Regions from separate parts of the Homo sapiens genome. Here region 1 is linked to region 2. The links come from fine-mapping of genetic effects on gene expression. Tissue or cell type: whole blood. Region 2 holds a variant in brackets; the other region holds the start of a gene. All regions are shown on one strand. Distances are between the middles of the regions. Region 1 holds the start of ARMC6 (armadillo repeat containing 6). Region 2 overlaps SUGP2 (SURP and G-patch domain containing 2).

Evidence for each region.
Region 1: it holds the start of ARMC6, and the variant in region 2 is fine-mapped to the expression of ARMC6 in whole blood (TOPMed, PIP 0.97).

Annotation. Positions count from the first base shown.
Region 1 is chr19:19,027,752-19,037,409 of GRCh38, forward strand. ARMC6 (armadillo repeat containing 6) reads left to right here and starts at 5,852. Exons shown (of 9, transcript NM_001199196.2): 1 at 5,852-6,179; 2 at 6,380-6,487. The coding sequence starts at 6,459. It overlaps SUGP2 (SURP and G-patch domain containing 2), which reads right to left and starts at 5,766. Exons shown (of 11, transcript NM_001017392.5): 1 at 5,686-5,766; 2 at 3,200-3,331. The coding sequence starts at 3,320. RefSeq lists an enhancer at 4,498-4,999 and silencers at 4,926-5,005, 5,426-5,855.
Region 2 is chr19:18,992,806-19,002,463 of GRCh38, forward strand. It overlaps SUGP2 (SURP and G-patch domain containing 2), which reads right to left. Exons shown (of 11, transcript NM_001017392.5): 8 at 8,808-8,869; 9 at 2,339-2,475; 10 at 1,561-1,681; 11 at 1-935. The coding sequence ends at 1,561. Among named protein-coding and RNA genes, the nearest start is that of SUGP2, 36 kb to the right of the region's middle. The variant C/T (reference allele first, on the strand shown) is at 4,972.

The DNA.
Region 1 (9,658 bases), 35 kb after region 2:
CTCCGCCTCCTGAGTAGCTGGGAATACAGGCACCCGCCACCATGCCCGGCTAACTTTTGTATTTTTAGTAGAGACAGGGTTTCACCACATTGGCCAGGCTGGTCTGGAACTCCTGACCTTGTGATCCGCCCACCTCGGCCTCCCAAAGTGCTGGGATTACAGGCGTGAGCCACCGTGTCACGCTGCATAGCTCTGACACTTTATCTAGCAGCAGTGGCCTGGCATGAGGAGCCAGACCGTACAGTTACAAAGGGAAGCCTTCCAGGCAGAGGGGGAATGAGGACAAGACCCTGAGGTGGGACCAGTAGGGGGCCAATGTAGACAGAAGGGAACACAGGGAATGAAAGGCCAAGTGGTAGGAAGGCAGCTCCCAAACTCTGCTACTGGAGCCCCAGGGACCACCTCCCCAGACATTCTTACTTAATTAAATAAGGGGATGACCTGGGCATCAGGGTTTTTAAAAGGCCCCCAGGTGACGCTAACGTGCTACAAAGTTAGGGAACCACTAATATAAGAGACACAAATGGAGAAGGAGTACCAGATCCAAGTCGGGCCCTCAGTGGTACTCTGGAATTTACTCTGGGAGAGACAGAAGGCTAGTGAAGAGTTCTAAGCAGAGGGATGATCTCACTGGCTGCTGCACAGGGAACAGATTAAAGGAGATGAGCACAGACGTGGATGTTCCTGCAAGAAATCCACTGTGATAACCCAGGTATTGATGATTGGTATTGATGGCATGATTAGGGAGGGAACATTAGTGACAGAGAGTGATGGCTGGATTCTACTCAAGAGAATTTTCTCATACCCTTTATGAGGAGATGAAAAGTTCAGAGTGGAGCAGAGAAACAGAGAAAGGCTAAACGATAGACTGCTTTGCAACACAGAAATGTTCCAGAATCACCTAGCATACTGCTAGGTTTCTAGTCCTCTCCCACCCACGGCCCCCTAATCTGTCTTTTTTTTTTGAGACGGAGTCTCGTTCTGTCACCCACGCTGGAGCGCAGTGGTGCGATCTCGGCTCACTGCAACCTCCACCTCCTGGGTTCAAGCTATTCTTCTGTCTCAGCCTCCTGGGTAGCTGGGATTATAGGGGCCTGCCACATTTTTGTATTTTTAGTAGACACGGGGTTTCACCATGTTGGCCAGACTGGTCTCAAACTCCTGACCTCAGGTGATCTGCCCACCTTGGCCTCCCAAAGTGCTGAGATTACATGTGTAAGCCACTGCACCTGGCCGTCTTTTTTTGAGACAGGGTCTCACTCTTTGGCCCAGGCTGGAGTATAATGGCACAAACACAGCTTACTGCAGCCTCGACTTCCTGGGCACAAGCGAACTTCCTGCCTCAGCCTCCCAAGTAGCCAGGGCCATAGGCGCATGCCACCATGCCCAGATAAATTTTTTTTTTTTTGAGACGGAGTCTTGCTCTGTCACCCAGGCTGGAGTGCAGTGGCACAACCTTGGCTCGCTGCAACCTCCGCCTCCTGGGTTCACGCCATTCTCCTGCCTCAGCCTCCTGAGTAGCTGGGACTACAGGCGCCCGCCACCACGCCCGGCTAATATTTTTAGTAGAGACAGGGTTTCACCGTGTTAGCCAGGATGGTCTCGATCTCCTGACCTTGTGATCCGCCCGCCTCGGCCTCCCAAAGTGCTAGGATTACAGGCTTGAGCCACTGCGCCCGGCCATTTTTTTTCTTTTTTTTTTTTTGAGATGGAGTCTCGCTCTGTCGCCCAGGCTGGAGTGCAGTAGCGCAATCTTGGCTCACTGCAGGCTCCACCTCCCGGGTTCACGGCATTATCCCGCCTCAGCCTCCCAAGTAGCTGGGACCACAGGCACCCACAACCACACCTGGCTAATTTTTTTTTTTTTTTGATTTTTAGTAAAGACGGGGTTTCACCATTCACAGGATGGTCTCGATCTCCTGACCTTGTGATCCTCCCAGCACTCTGGGAGGCCGAGGCGGGCAGATCACAAGGTCAGGAGTTCAAAACCAGCCTGACCAACATAGTGAAACCCCATCTTTACTAAAATAAATACAAAAAAATTAGCCGGGCATGGTGGCAGGCACCTGTAATCTCAGCTACTCGGGAGGCTGAGGCAGGAGAATCGCTTGAATCCAGGAGGCACAGGCCGCAGTGAGCCAAAATCACGTCACTGCACTCCAGCCTGGGCGACAGTACAAGACTCTGTCTCAAATAAAAAAAAAAAAGAACTAGTAGAGCTTAAACCTGGGCAGCGGTGACAGGGATGGAGCCAGGAAATGGATCCAAGAACCTGTCTTGGGGCTGGGAGCAGTGGCTCACGCCTGTAATCGCAACATGCTGAAGGCAGAGGTGGGAGGATCACTTGAGCCCAGGAGTTGCAGACCAGCCTGAAAACATAGCAAGACTCCATATCTATTAAAAAAAACAAAAAACAAAAAAAACAAAAACATAAAAAACACCAAAAAACAAAACTGGGCTGGGCTCGGTGGCTCATGCCTGTAATCCCAGCATCTTGGGAGGCCAAGGCAAGTGGATCACCTGAGGTCGGGAGTTCGAGACCAGCCTGGCCAACATGGTAAAACCTCATCTCTACTACAAATAGAAAAATTAGCTGGGCGTGGTGGTGCATGCCCGTAATCCCAGCTACTCAGGAGGCTGAGGCAGGAGAATCGCTTGAACCCAGGAGGCGGAGGTTGCAGTGAGCCAAGAGGCGGAGGTTGCAGTGAGCCAAGATCCCTCCATTGCCCTCCAGCCTGGGAGACAAGAGTGAAACTCCGTCTCAAAACAAACAAACAAACAAACAAACAATAAACAAAACTGTCTTGAGGTGGGTCGGGGAGGATATCCAGTGAGAAGCTCCAGATAACTACATAATGATGACTGACAGATCAAAACATTATCCCCTGACCAAGTGCAGTGGCTCATGCCTATAATCCCAGCACTCTGGGAGGCAGAGATGGAAGGATGGCTTGAGCCTAGGAGTTCAAGGGTGCAGTGAGCTAAAACTGCGCCACTGCACTTCAGCCTGGGGGAGAGAGTAAGACCCTATCACAAAAAAGAAACCAAACCAAAATAAAAACCTTTACCTCCTCCTAAATAAGGAAACTAAGGATCAGAGGACTGGTATTATTTGCCCAAGGTATTGTAATCTTCCTGCCTTGGCCCTAAGATACACCCCTACCAAAACAACAACTACAACAACAACACTTTATTTTACCTTGAGCTTTAAACTGAAGAGTTTCGCTTACAGCCTCACCACTGGCATCCATGTGATATCGTTTGGCTTTTTCTTGTAATACAGCATCAAAAGTCTCCTGTGTAATTCGTCTGGCTGCCATGTTATTTTGCCCTATGGTGAGAGAGAAAAAAATACACTAAGAGCAACAACTTGGAGCTGGGCGCGGTGGCTCATACCTGTAATCCTGGCACTTTGGGAGGTCGAGGTGGGCGGATCACCTGAGCTCAGGAGTTCGAGACCAGCCTAGGCAACATGATGAAACTAAAATACAAAAAATTCAGGCTGGGTGTGGTGGCTCACACCTGTAATCCCAGGACTTTGGGAGGCTGAGGTGAGCGGATCATTTAAAGTCAGGAGTTGGAGACCAGCCTGGCCAACATGGCAAAACCCTGTCTCTACTAAAAATACAAAAATTAGCCGGGCATGGTGGTGCCTGCCTTTAATCCCAGCTACTTGGGAGGCTGTGGCAAGAGAATTGCTTGAACCCAGGAGGCGGAGGTTGCAGTGGGCCGAGATCATGCCACTGCACTCCAGCATGGGTAACAGAGTGAGACTCCGTCTCAAAAAAAAAAAAAAAAAAATTTCACCAGGCATGGTGGCACGTGCCTGTAATCCCAAATACTCAGGAGGCTGAGGCATGGGAATTGCTTGAACCAGGGAGACAGAGGTTGCAGTGAGCCGAGATCATGCCACTGCCCTCCAGACTGGGGGACAGAGCGAGACTGTCTCAAAGAAAAAAAAAATGCGTGCTCACAGAACCTGCTCTATTTCACTTAATCCTCGAAGTAAGGAGGCAGTAATCCATAATCCTCGCATGGTACTTCAGAGGCAAGCTGGACCCTTTTTATTTATCTTTTTTTTTTTTTTTTTTAAGTAGAGACAGGGTTTTGCTAGGTTGGCCAGGCTGGTCTCGAACTCCTGACCTCAAGCAATCTGCCCACCTTGTCTGGACTCTTTTAAGGGGGTCTCTGCCCTCACGAAGTTCACAGGTGTGTGCTGGCTGAAAAGGAGCAAGACAAACCTTCTCTGGGCCCATCTCCTTGGAATCCATTAAAAGCAGCTCTGTGAAAGCAGTTCTATCTGCTGGAGGAAGGTGTCAACCAACACACATAACTGAGCATAACAGAGTAGGAAGGGTGGGACCACAACCCTCGCAAATCGTGGTTAGGAAAGAAGAGATCAATCTTTTTTTTTTTTTTCTTCCTTTTTTTGAGACTCTCCCTGTTGCCCAGGCTGGAGTGCAGTGGCATGATCTCGGCTAACTGCAACCTCCGCCTCCTGGACTCAAGCAATTCTCCTGCCTCAGCCTCCTGAGTAGCTGGGATTACAGGAGTCCGCCACCGCATCCGACTAATTTTTATATTTTAGGTAGAGATGGAGTTTCACCATGTTGGCCAGGCTGGTCTTGAATTCCTGACCTCAAGTGATTCGCCCGCTTCGGCCTCCCAAAGTGCTGGGATTCCAGGCCGTGAGCCACTGCGCCTGGCCCAGGATCACTCTTTTCCCATTCACAGACTCAGCAGGGCACAGAGGCTCTGAGAACTTCCTTCCCTTCTAAAAGAAGCCTCTTGACAGTGAGTGGCGGGACCCCCAACCAATGACAATGAACTAGTGACAGTTCATTCTGCGCTGGGTCCTTGCGCGATCTCCCAACCACCCACTGAAGAGGCGGGTCCTGTTATGAATGACATTAGGGTGAGGAGGCAAAGGGAGACAGACTCAACGACCCATTCAAGACCAGACAGCCCAGATTTGAACCTGGCAAAAAGGGTATTCGTGCATCCAAAGCCCCGAAGAATGAGTAAAAAGATTAAGCAACATTTTGGGGTCCAGGGGCTGCATCCTTAACCATCAAGATATCCCGCTTCGCAAAACCTCCAACTTCAAGAGACAACCCGTAGGGTCCATTTCCCATCACGATCACCGCCTCCCCCACCCGCCTCCCCCAGTCCCATCCTTCAGCCCTTTTCCCGGGGCGCCCCCTTGTTCTCTGCTGGCAAAGGGCAGGGTTCCCGGGTCAGGTGACCCAGGTTCAAATCACACGATTCTAAGCTTTCTGTGCTTCCGTTTCCCCACCTATGGAATGGGCAGCCAGTAAAGGGGCTGGTGTGGGGGCTGAACCGGTTCTAAAGAGGGCAAGGGCCCGATGCAGCGCTGGGCGCCGTTATCTCCTCCCGAGCGGGGGCCGCTCCGAGTTCGGGAGGAATGAATGAACGACTGAACCAATGAGCCTTTGTGGACGCGGCCCGCCGTCTCCCGGCCTCTGCGGGCGAGGAAATGGGGGCGCCGGGCCCGGGAGGCCGCAGCCGGCCACCCAGGCCAACCCGGCGGGGACGCGGCCGCCGCCGCAGCCAGAGGGCCGAGCCTGCGACGCCATCACGGAGCCCGGGGCGGGCCCCCAAGGCCGAGCCCGAGCTTCCCACCCCGGGAGCCACCCACCGACGACGCCAGGGCCCGGGCCTCACCCCGAGACCACCGCGCGCGGAGCCACCCCCGCCGCCGCCTCAGGCTCCTCACCCGCCGCCGCCGCCGCGCGAGGCGGGGACATGCAAATGAACCAACGGTCTCCGCAGCGCCGCGCCGCGCAGGCGCAAGCCGCCGCCGAGTCCTGGTGCGCAGGCGCGGGCCGCCGCGGCCCGGCTCTCTTGCGCAAGCGCGCTGTCCGCTTCTTCTGGGCGGACGCTCTGGAGGCAAAACATTTCCCTGCTGGGGGCGGCGACCACCGTGAGCGTCCCGGAAGGGGCGGCAAAGACGCCTCCGTCGCGCACGAGGTGGCCTCGTTGGCTTTACCTTGGTTCGCGGTCGTCCTTGGTTATCGTGAGCGTCCGCGAGTCTCTGGGAGGCCAAGCCTAGGGGCGCCACAGCGCCTGCGCGCGTACGGCGGCCGGAAGGGGCTAGAGGCGGCTCCCTGGGTGACAACCGCGCGCCCCACCTTTCCCCACGTGGCCGCGAAGACCGGGTGAGACGCTGCGGCTGCCGAGGCCTGTCCCGCGCGGAGTGGGGAGTGGGGGTGCCGCAGGGTCGGGCTGGCGCGACCCTCGGGTACGTGGTTTGGGGGGAAAAAAAAAATGAAAGAATTTTACAGAAGCCGCCTGGGGACAAAATCCTCGGCTTCCCTGGCATTCGCTTTATTTTCATTCATTTTATTTATTCATTCAGCACCTGTGCACTGAGTGCCTGCTGCGTGTCGGGCCCCGTCCTAGGCAGTGGGGACAAGGAGGCTACAGGGTACAAATAAATGAGTGAACGATGTTGCTCTAGATACAGGTAATGGTGTGCAAATAATAACAGAGTGATGGGACGGGAAAGCAGGGCTGCTCTTTATCTAGAAGTGGTTTTGAAGGCTGTCTCTTGAGTGCTGGGAAGGATGAGAAAGGCGGGGAAGAGGAACTTGGAAGGCTTAGATAGAGAAGGTGCGGATAAGGAGGCTGGGTTTTGTTCTGAGAGGGTTGGGAAGCCACTACCGGGCTTTGAGCACGTGAGTGAGGTGGAGTCTAGGCTCTGGGAGTGGCAGGTGACGCCGCCCTTAGGGGAGGCTGGTGTTTGAACCAGAGTGGGTGTGGCTGGTAGAGGGACATGTGGATGGAGTCTTTTAGAGTCCCCAGCATGTCATGGCACACGTTTAATTTTCTTTTGAGACGGAGTCTTTCTCTGTCGCCCAGGCTAGAGTGTAGTGGCATGATCTTGACTCACTGCAACCTCCACCTCCCGGGTTCAAGGGCTTCCCCTGCCTCAGCCTCCCGAGTAGCTGGGACTACAGGTGCGCAACACCGCACCTGGCTAAATTTTGTATTTTTTTTTTTTTTGAAACGGAGTCAAAAGGAGTTCAAGCGATCTCCTGCCTCAGCCTCCTGAGTAGCTGGGATTACCGGTGTGCACTATCTTGCCTGGCCTTTTTTTTTTTTTTTGAGACGGAGTCTCGTTCTGTCACCCAGGCTGGAGTGCAGTGGCGCAATCTCAGCTCACTGCAAGCTCCGTCTCCTGGGTTCAGGCCATTCTCCTGCCTCAGCCTCCCGAGTAGCTGGAAATACAGGCACCCGCCACCACGCCCGGCTAGTTTTTTTGTATTTTTTTAGTAGAGACGGGGTTTCACCGTGTTAGCCAGGATGGTCTTGATCTCCTGACCTCATGATCCGCCCGCTTCGGCCTCCCAAAGTGCTGGGATTACAGGCGTGAGCCACCGTGCCCGGCCCTGGCTAATTTTTTGTATTTTCAGTAGAGACAGGATTTTGCTATGTTGGCCAGGCTGTTCTCAAACTCCTGACCTCAAGTGATCTACCCGCCTCAGACTCCCAAAGCGCTGGGATTATAGGCCTGAGCCACCGCACCTGGACAGCACAGTTTTCTTGATGAGCAGATTCCTGGCTGAGAGAAGGAAACTGGCTGCCAGTTAGGGGCCTTACTCATCTTCTGTTTTACCCTCAGCATGCCCTGATGGATAATAGGGACTGGTAATGCTGCTTCCCCCTTTTAGCCTAGGCTGTTCTCCAGGTAATTCTTACTTGGCCATCTCCAGGCACCATCTTATGTGTTCCAAATCTGTACTTTCCTCCTCCAACTCAGCCCTGTACCAGATCTAGGGGACCTTGGAGGACTCAGGTCAGGGGTGGTCACAGAGCCAGACCTTCCCAACTCAGTCAGCTCAGGGGTGGGTGGAAGGGAGGGGTTGTGGGTTGGGGAGTGAAGCCAGAGAGTGTGGGCTCTCTGAGTGGCCAGGAAAGGCAGCCACCTGGAAGGGCTGGCAGAAGCTCCACAGAGGACTGAGAATCCGAAGTATTTGAGACAGGTGTCAATCAGTTAGAAAGCTTATTTTGCCAAGGTTAAGGACATGTCTGTGACACAGCCTCAGGAGGTCCTGACAACATGTACCCAAGGTGGTTGGGGCACAGCTTGCTTTTATACATTTTAGGGAGACGTGAGATATAAATGAATATGTGTAAGATGGTCACAGGTAGAGACAAATGATTGCTTTCTTTTGAGTCTTTGGTCAGCCTTTCACAGAATACACGATTTATATGGGGTACAGGGCAGGTAGAGGAATAGTCATTTATGCCTCAGTCCGACTCATGAATCTGAGGTTTTGTTTCTTGTTTTTTGTTTTATTTTTTGAGATAGAGTCTCGCTCTGTCGCCCAGGCTGGAGTGCAATGGCGCAATCTTGGCTCACTGCAACCTCCACCTCCCGGGTTCAAGCAATTCTCTTGCCTCAGCCTCCTGAGTAGCTAGGATTACAGGCGCCCACTACCACGCCCAGTTAATTTTTATATTTTTAGTAGAGACGGGGTTTCGCCATGTTGGTCAGGCTGGTCTCGAATTCCTGACCTCAGGTGATCCACCGGTGTCAGCCTCCCAAAATGCTGGGATTACAGGCATGAGCCACGGAGCCAGGCCAAATCTGCATTTTTACATAAACGTTAGGGCAGAGAGAGCAACTGGATATGCATTTGTCTCAGGTGATGACTTTCTGTCCTGCACTTGTGAAGATCACCTGTCAATTTACATTGCCAGGGTGACATTCAACAAAATTGTTTTCAGGTAAAGATCTTGAGGGCCACAAGGAATTTCCTGGCCTGGCCGGGGTGGTGGGAGTGGAGTCCCCTACTCCTTACTCCCTACTGAGAAACTCTTTATATTACTCTTCCTTCACCTTTAACCTTGGAAATCCATAGCAGCCCTTAAAGAGCTCCCTTTTCTTCTGGGGCAGAAAGGAGAGGGGCCTATCTGCAAAAGAGTGAGATGGGACTCCTGCATAAACTTGCTGAATTGCCTCTTAAGCAACAAAGGAAAGGAACAAATAGCTAATTTATTGAGCCTGTCCATATCCTGTTCTGAGGAAGGTATAGGAGTTGGCTGAATTTTTCACTACTGCCCTATGAAGTAGATTCGTGTTTATCTCTGTTTGACACATGAGGGAATTGAAGAAAAGTGTATCTGGCTGGGCGTGGTGGCTCATGCCTGTAATCCCAGCATGATGGGAGGCCGAGGCAGGTGGGTCACCTGAGGTCAGGAGTTCGAGACTAGCCTGGCCAACATGGTGAAACCCTGTCTCTACTAAAAATACGAAAATTAGCTGGGCGTGGTGGCGTGGGCCTGTAGTCTCAGCTACTTGGAGGCTGAGGCACAAGAATCGCTTGAACCCAGGAGGCAGAGGTTGTGGTGAGCCAAGATCGTGCCACTGCATTCCAACCTGGGCGACAGAGCGAGACTCTGTCTCAAAAAAAAAAGAAAAGGGCATTGAAGTGGAGGGCATGGGAACTGGGTTCTGCAGGCTGGCTGCGAGCCAGTCCTTCTCCCGTCAGGCAGTGTGCAGTCCATGGTGGGCATCTGCAGGAACACAGATGGAATGTGTATATCCCATGCCACTGCCTGAAAAGAGAAGCATGGGCCAGAGTGACCTGTTTCTTTTTCCTTTTTTTTTTTTTTTGAGACAAGGTCTTAC
Region 2 (9,658 bases):
TGCTTCACAAGGAAGGATGAGTGGAGAATTGAGTGGAGTTACACGCAGCAGAGTGCTGGGGAATCTGGAGAGCGGGGGCGATCACATGCCTGGAAATAGAGCAGCTGCAGAGCCCACCCCAGGAGGAGCCTGCCTCTCCTTACAAAGGCTGTAATAAGACAGCACTTGACGATGCCATACGTGCGAAAAGTGCAGAGTCTCAGAGGGTTTACAACCCCCATCCCTTTGTAACTGTAGTTTGCTTACACTGTGGATTCTAAAGAGACATGTAAATCTGGGGCCGATTTCATCTGTTTAATGATTACTCCCCACCCGATAGAGCTATTCTATACTGTTGCTAAAATTTCATTAAGTCTCTCAAGATGCATTGATGAGATGAGACACCATGAATAACACATTCATCAACTCAAGTATGGCAACTGTTCAGAGAGCTTCAGAGCTTTGGTACCCGAGTGCAGACTTGGTAATTACCGGGAATTTGTCTCCCCCGTATAAATTCTGGCGAACAACGAGAAAACACCATCTGTGATCGTTTCCACATCACGTTTGCTAACAGAGCACTTCTGGAGAGCAATGGCCAGTCCAACTGGAAAATCAGCCAGAGGAGCTGGTTCCTCAGCACTCACAGGCTGAGGTGCCTTTCGGGGGCAGCGCCACCTTCTGAAGGGGAACCAAGACAGATTTGGAGGGGACTTGCTGCTAAAAGCATGTGAACAGAGAGGAGAGGCAAAAGCACATTGAAAATGGTGCATGTTTTTTTCTTTGAGAGAAAGAAAAGCCAGCGAAACCTCCGCCCCAGAGACTGCAGAGACGTTTGTTTTCATGTACACACCAAACCGTACTTGGGCACTGGCTCCAGGCCGATCCAGGGCAGGGATGATGTTTTAAGGGCAATTGCTGCTTCAAGGCTTATCTTTCACATCAGTGGTTTTGATCTATTCAGGAAGAGAACGATTTTGTTCAAAACTGAGGTGGAAATTAGGTGAGGGGGCAACTAAAAAAAAAAAAGAATAGAAAGATGAGGATATTTACAGGCCCAAGGCCCTGCAGAAGGAAAAGGATTTGAAGACCCTCACAAAGGGACACAGCCAACTGCCATCCTCTGTGGCAGTGGCTGTCACAGTCGCCCTTCCACTTGCATGATGGCAAGGCCCTCTGGACTAGGAACAGTCCGTTTGCTGGTCATGTTATGTGGTAGGTGGCTGTCATCTGTGAGAGAAAACTTGAGCAAGAGAAGAGACAGGCGTGGCCTATTTCCACACGCACATCCACGGAGGCTGGCCTGGAGGCCTTGAGGGGCTCACAGCCGGGGCACCAGGCAGGCCATGCGCATCTGCCCTTGGCCAGTGTGAGGTTTGCTCCTTCAGCAAACCTGGAAGGTAAGAATGGGGCATATCCACATCCATAGACCCTTTTGTTTCCCTCACAGAATTTTGTGATTTTTTTTGTGTGTGGCATTTTTGGGGGAGCAGGGAACATCAACTTTGTTGGGGGAAATTTCTCTGCATACCAGCACGCCAGCGAGGGCAGACGGCCTTACACACTGGCCTGTGAACATACCTATTTGTTGGCCCGCTTGTGTCTGTACATCTGCATCATCCTCTGTCGGAACACATCGAATGTGTCTTCTTTGTGCTCCTGCCCGTCAGCACCCAACCCTTCCCCTTCCGAGGGGGTTCCCCTAGGGAGTGAAAAAGAGAGTCAGTTGTGCACCTGAGCCCAGGGCCTGGCATGCCAGGAACTGGGCATGGGCACAAACAGTCCATGAGATGCAGGTGTTTGGGACACACACTGAGACATCAAAGAAAGGGAAAATCAAGACGCGACTCACAGTAGAAACAAGGAGTACTCACCCTCGAAGAGCTGGCTTTTGAGGGGGTGCCCAGAGGGCCCTGGTTACCTCGGAATGCCTTACCCAGCAGGAACTAAGCTCAGTATTAAATGAAATGCCTGCTGGAGGTTATGATCGGGGTTTAATAAACTTTGGGCCTGTGTTCGGGACCCTGGCTGGCCCGGCTATGGGTTCCCGGGAATGGGAAAGCAGTTCCAGACGGAAACTACACAGAAATACCACTTAGCTTTTATGATGGTCACAAATGTGGCCAAAATGACCAGGGCCAACAAGCTGGTTAAAAAATCTACACCAGGACAGAAAGGAGCCCTGTAAACACCTGCACATGTAAATGATCAGCTTCTCATCTGAAGATGCCTTCTGTTTAAAAAACAAAAATCAACTGCCAGCTGTAAGCCATCTTGGCTGTGAAGGAGCCAAGCGGCAGGCTGCAGGTGGAAGGACTGAGGCCCCACCCACTCCCACCCCAGGCTGCCTGCTGCGTACACGCTGACCGGCTCCCTGATGCCCTTTCCGAGGGAGCCCAGGCCATGGCCCTCCTTCCAGCCCATCTTCTGCAGCATCTGGAAGCCCAGGTTCTTATCGGTCAGCTTCTGCTGGGCGAAGTCCAAGTCCTTGGGTTTCTGAGGAGAGAGGAGAGTCCAGGCATGTGGGCCACAGGGAGATGCCTGGATCAAGGGTCTGTCCTAGGCTATGCCTGGAGCCCCTCACCCCCAAATGCCCTCCTGACTCCCCAGATGCTCAGGCTCAAGCTCCAGTCACTTCCCCAGTTCTCTGCAACATCCCTGGGTGGGATGGAACTTCTAAGTCAGAGGTCACTGGCCTGAGGTCAGTCGTGCCTCTCAGCTACCACTATAACCCTGGTGCCAAGACTGTGAGGAAAACTGGGTAAGGGAATGGCCAGTCCCGGGGTCAAGGAGTCAGTAGGAAGGCCCTCAGCGGAACCCTGGATAAAGAAGGGTGGCCCTGTGATGACCACAGGGCGCAGCCCAGGGAAGAGTGGGGGGCACCAGGGCACAGGCCTGCAGGCAGGATGGGGGCCAGACAGTGGGTGAGAACTGGCTGGCAGCACCCTCCCTGAACCACCCCAACATACCCCTCCCCGAGTGCTTCATTCACTCCCTGGCTGCATTGTCTGTCTGTCCTCAGGACTGAGTTCTACTTGGACATTGGGGTCTGTGTCTAGCACAGAGCAGACCTCACTGAGAGCTAGTACAGCTGTTGATTGCTCCTGTGGGTGGTGGGGAAGTGCAGCAATCTCTGGGCCACTAGATGGAGATCTGGAGACAGACAGGGCCCTGGGGCCTCTGGAGGAGGAGCCTGCAGGGCTGTAGCAGAAGGAATTTCTATTCACTCATGAATATTCATGACACACTGCTGTGTGACAGAGCCCAGCTGGGCAGTCCAAGACCTTGCCATGTATTCCTTGGCTCTTCACGAGTCAACTTGTGTGGGTGGGCTGGGCGTGGTGGCTCATGCCTGTAATCTCAGCAGTTTGGGAGGCCGAGGTGGGTGGATCACTGGAGGTCAGGAGTTCCAGACCAGCCTGGCCAACGTGGCAAAACCCCGTCTCTACTAAAATACAAAAATTAGCCAGGCATGGTGGCAGGCACCTGTAATCCCAGCTACTTGTGAGGCGGAGGCATGAGAATCGCCTGAACCTGGGAGGCAGAGGTTGCAGTGAGCGGAGACCGTGCCACTGCATTCCAGCCTGGGCAACACAATGAGACTGTCTAAAAAAAGAAACAAAATACAAAACTTGTGTGTGTTTTTTTTAAATATAGAGTCTTGCTATGTTGCCCAGGCTGGTCTCGGATTCCCGGCTTTAAGTGATCCTCCCACCTCAGTCTCCCCATTAACTGGAACTATAGGTATGTGCCACTGCACCCAGCTTTTGATGTTTTTTTTTTTTTAAGACGGAGTCTTGCTCTGTTGCCCAGGCTGGAGTGCAGTGATGCAATCTCAACTCATTGTAACCTCCGCCTCCTGGGTTCAAGCGATTCTCCTGCTTCAGCCTCCCGAGTAGCTGAGATTACAGGCGTGTGCCACCACGCCCACCTATTTTTGTATTTTTAGTAGAGACGGGGTTTCGCCATGTTAACCATGCTGGTCTTGATCAAACTCCTGACCTCAGCTGATCTGCCCGCCTCAGCCTCACAAAGTGCTGGGATTACAGGCATGAGCCACTGCGCCTGGCTGATGTATTTATTTAAGGCATTTACTGAACGACCTGGGGAGGCTGTGAGGGTTCATGTGCTCTTGAGAGGGAGGGAGGAAGGTGCTGAGGAGGATCACGGGGGCTGGTGCTGGGGGTCTGAGCAGGGGACAGGTGGGAGTGGCTGGGAGAGGGTTAGATGACCCTGGGCATGGGAAGCAGGGTGAGAAGGGCATGCTGAGTGCTGTGAGCTCAGGTCTTTGGGCAGTCAGCCCTCATCAGCTTAGCAACCTGCCCCATGATGTCATGCAGGCCTCACGAGGTATAATTCAACCAAAAGACAAATCCCCCCCTTGCCATCTGCATTGAGGTGCCCAGGAATCAGCTTCCCTAACGTTAGGGGTGCATGTGGGAGGCACTCCAGAGACAAAGGAGCTTGGAGACAAGGCACAAAAGGCTGAGCCTGGGGGAGCCAGGGGCTGGGAGAGGAAAGGGAGAAGGGAGAGAGCAGGGCCTCAGGTCAGGAGGGAGGGAGGGAGGAGAGAGCAAGTGCTCCCATAAGGAAGGCCTGGGCCTCTGGAGCTCCTGGGGCCTCAGTGTTCTCACCCTAGAAAGGGACAAAACAACCTGGAGAGGTGCTGAGAACTCAACATGCAGCAAGATGTAGGGGGTCAGAAACGGATACCCTAAGGCTGGGCGCGGTGGCTCACGCCTGTAGTCCCAGCACTTTGGGAGGCCAAGGTGCGTGGATCACGATGTCAGGAGTTTGAGACCAGCCTGACCAACATGGTGAATCCCCATCTCTACTAAAAATACAAAAATTAGCCAGGTGTGGTGGCACGCCCCTGTAATCCCAGCTACTCTGGAGGCTGAGGCAGGAGAATCCCTTGAACCTGGGAGGCAGAGGTTGCAGTGAGTTGAGATCATGCCATTGCACTCCAGCCTTGGCGACAAAGGGAGACTC[C/T]GTCTCAAAAAAAAAAAAAAAAAAAAAGAAAGAAAGAAAGAAAGCGATACCCCGAATTATAGCACTTTGACAGGTGGGACTAAAGTAGCAGCCTCAAGGTCCCTCCCAAAGCACAGGAGGAAGCTGTTTTCTTCAAGTTCCCTATCTACCTAGAAACTGGACTTGCCAAAGAAGAACACAAGGGCCTTGGATCCCTTCCCTGAAATGTCATTAACCAGAGTTGAAAACTCCTATCACACAAGAAGAGATGGAACATTAAACACCACACCTAGAGCCCAGACCACTGGCTGTTCTCTAGTCCCATTCAATTCTCAATGAGGATCATTCACAAGATGATGCCTGCCTCCATTCATCTCTCCTAAAATCATCTGCTTCCCCTCTAAAGTTACCTACAGCCTCCCATCTGCCCTCTCCCCTACAAAGAGGTATTTCAGCTTCAACCACCTGGCCCTTCTTTGAGTTTTCATAATGTTTTATATGGCTCCTGTGCTTATGCACGTGAATAAATATGTATAACTTTTTTGTTTCAAGACAGGATCTTGCTCTGTCACCCAGGCTGGAGTGCAGTGGCTCCATCATGGCTCACTGCAGTCTTGAACTCCCGGGCTCAAGTGATCCCCCTGCCTTGGCCTTCCAAAGTCCCGGGATTACAGGTGTAAGCCACCGCACACCTTTTTTTATCCTGTTAATCTTCTTATTGTCAGTTCATTTCAACAGGCTTAGACTTGGACCTTCAAAGGCGGAGGGAAATTCCCTTTGTTCTCTTCAGAGGCATCTCCGAGGGTATTATATAAAGTAGCTGTGTGTGTGTATGCATGTGTGTGTGCGTGTGTGTATGCATGTGTGTGTGCATATGCGTGCACATGTGTGTATCTTGTGTGTGTGCGTGAGTTACTGGATGCAGGCGGCCCCTCCATAATGGCATGAGGTGGTCTTGGTGAGGCGGTGTGGGCAGAAGTGTCTCTGCAGGGCAGTTAAGGAGGGGAGGTATGAAGGGAGGAGCTATGCTATGGGCTGGGACAGGAAGAGGGGCACAAACAGTGAAGAGACACCCCTGCAAACCAGGGGACACCAGACAGGACCTGCTACACTGGGGGGCCCCTTGCCATGAGAAAGTGGCCTGGAGAAAAGAGGTGACAGAACCCACCGGCTGAGATGAGAAACGGGGCATCCGTCAGGCCCTTCTGGGAGCTGTGCACGACCTGGGCCCTGGGATGACGGGTAGGGAAGGAAGGGGAAAGGCTGGTCATGGCAGGGCACAGGGGTCCCCAGAGGGCAGGTCTGTACTCTTTTCCCTTTCAGGAAGGCTGCTTGGAGGTGCAGTGGGAGGAAGAGGGTTTGGCTCAGCCTGGAAGTTTCTTCGTGAATGTTCAAATCTGTGTTTAACAATCATGATGGTGGTTTCCTGGACAGCTGGAGGAAAGCCAAGCCCTGTGGGCGAGGTGGAGGTTTGCAGAGGAAAGCTGCAGCCACCACGGCCTCCCTTCCACCCACAGTCACTGGCAGACAGGAGGACAGGTGCAGAGCCCCAAGGAGACAGCAGCATGTGCAGGACACCCACCAGGAACCGCGTTCAGTTTAATCCTCACTGTACCTCCTACCTGCTGGGTAAGTGTGGCCATCCCATTTTACAGACAAATCCGTGGCTCAGGGGTTACACGCCAAGGTTACAAAACTACTCGGTGGCAGGGCTGAGCTAGAGTACAGCTGTGCCTGACACCAAGGTCCTGCTGTGCCCTCATCTGGCCGTGCCCTTATCCAGGCCACACCAAGGGGCACCAGATGCCAGCTCAGCCTAAAACCTGGCACATCAGTAAGGACTATGAGCTCTGGACTCGGGAAGGTCCCTCCTTCCTGCCATAATTGGGGTCAGACTGACCTAGGTCACTCGGAAGGGGTTGGAAGCAACATGGCACTGCCTGACACCAGCAGAGCGATCTCGCCTGGCTCCCCGCCCTCCTCCCTGACCATGAAGGACTGGTGAAGTCTCTCCACATGTGTCCCAGGTGACCCTGCTTGCCCCCAGCACTGTGTCCCCCAGGCCATCTGGAGTGTACCTGCCCCCTTTCCATAACCTGGCTCCAGGTCAGTGAATGGCAGTTCTGTCCCTCTTCTGCCCAAGCTGACAACCCTGGGGTCATCTGGACTCCTGGCTTTTGCACACCCAGCCCACAAGCAGGTGTCACCCACTCCATCTTCTCCCCTTCTCATTGCTCCTCATGCCCTGGTCCAACTGTCTTAAGTTTGAGCCTCCTCCTGGTTCCCGCCCACAGGCTGCTCTCCACCCTAGTGGCCACATCCACCACAGGTCCCAGAGGTACCCTCCCTTCCCTGAGAAAGGGCCACAGCGTTAACATCTGTTGAGGTCCTGTGTGACCACCCCCCGGATTCCTCTGCTGCCACAAAGGCCTCTTGCTGCCCCAGCCTCTCTACCGAGGCTGTGCCCTTCTCAGATCTCTACACTGTTTCTCCTCAGCTCCTCCAGGCTTGTGCCAACGTCATCTGCAAGAGAGACCTCCCTTGGCTTTCCCAATTCAGCGGCATCCCCTCGACCCCACCTTATTCTCCCTCTCTTTGACCTGCTTCTCTTTGCCCACAGCATCCCCAGGACTGCCTCATCCATTTCTCTTTCACTGTTGGCCCTGCTTGCTGCTGCCTCCAGGTGGACAGTCGGGACCTGGCACGTAGGAGGTGCTGACCGCACACACCACGCTCTGCTTACTAGCAGATTAGTGAACTCTCTTCACCACCCTTCCAGTCTACTAAGCTTGTAAGTTTTTATGTTTTATTTTTTAAGGAGACCAGGAGGAGACATAGGTCTCACTATGTTGCCCAGGCTGGCCTCAAACTCCTGGGCTCAAGTGATCCCCCTGTCTTGGCCTCCCAAAGCACTGGGATTACAGGCGTGAATCAGTGCACCTGGATAACTTGAACTTTTTTTTTTTTTTTGAGACAGGCTCTCAGTCTGTCGCCCAAGCTGGGGTGCAGTGGTGCAATCAGCTCACTGCAGCCACGACCTCTCAGGCCCAAATGATCCTTCCACCTCAGCCTCCAGAGTAGCTGGGACTACAGGCATGCACCACCATGCCCAACTAATTTTTGTATTTTTTGCAGAGACAGGGTTTTGCCTATTGCCCAGGCTGGTCTTAAACTCTTGGACTCAAGCGATCTGCCCACTTTGGCCTCCTAAACTGCTGGGATCACAAGTGTAAGACACCCAATCGGCCTTAGCTTGAACTTCTTTTTTTTTTTTTTTTGAGACGGAGTCTCACTCTGTCGCCCAGGCTGGAGTGCAGTGGCGCGATCTCGGCTCACTGCAAGCTCTGCCTCCCAGATTCATGCCATTCTCCTGCCTCAGCCTCCTGAGTGGCTGGGACTACAGGCGCCTGCCACCATGCCCGGCTAATTTTTTGTATTTTTAGTAGAGACGGGGTTTCATCGTGTTAGCCAGGATGGTCTCGATCTCCTGACCTTGTGATCCACCCGCCCTCTGCCTCCCAAAGTGCTGGGATTACAGGCGTGAGCCACCACACCTGGCCTAGCTTGAACTTCTTAAGGGCCAAGACATTATCTCGTTTATCTCTCAAATCCCACTGCATCCATTACAGGGATCTCAACTATCCATTACACAGATGAATCACTAGTCTATGCTTTGGACAAAGGCAAAACAGTTTTCAAAAGCCCTCCCAAGAGAAAAGTCTCTGTTGTGTTTTACACATTAATACCTCAGTTTGAAATGTTAGCACAGCTTAATCACAAGCTGCAGCATCCTTTGGAACTCCAACAAATTCTAACCAACTATACTTTGAGTGAGGACTACCAATGATTACGCTCACCTTCTTTTTGGACATGGGACGACCCCGAGGCCTGTCATAGGCAATTCGAACTGGTTCATGGACTAGAAGACAAAAGAAAGAGACACATACACATACATGTGCTTTTCCTAAATTACTTAGAGACTGAAGATCTTGCAGTCTATTTTGGCTAACAGTTCTCTGATGACAGAAGGTGTCTTAGGCTCTGCATGGCAGCTGCTGAGCCCCAGCTCCTCTCAAGAATGAACATGTATGACCCCTGGAGTGAGCAGAGACGGGACACGCTCAGGGTAGGCAGCTTGGGCCATAATGAAGGGTTCACTGAGCGGTGCCTTGCTTTTGGAAAGTCTATTCAAACCTAAGAGTCCCCACATTTATAACAAAAGATCCAATACATGGATTATTTTCCATGACTACAGAAATATATTTTGCTTCAACAAAATATTTGTGATACTGTGCCCTCCTAGTTTATCTGCAGCTAATTCACTGGGAAATAATTAAAGTCTGGCCAGGCGCAGTGGCTCATGCCTGTAATCCCATCACTTTGGGAGGCCGAGATGGGCGGATCACCCGAGGTTAGGAGTTCGAGACCAGCCTGGCCAGCATGGCGAAACCCCGTCTCTACTAAAAGTACAAAAACTAGCCAGGCGTGGTGGCGGGAGCCTGCAATCCCAGCTATTCAGGAGGCTGAGGCAGGAGAATAACTTGAACCCGGGAGGCAGAGGTTGTAGTGAGCCGAGATTGTGCCACTGCACTCCAGCCTGGGCGACAAGAACAAGAGTCCATCTCAAAAAAAAAAAAAGAATTAAAGTCTGCCTAAAACTTTCTAGTGAAAAACAACCATGCTTCTCATATAGAGAACCACATCATAT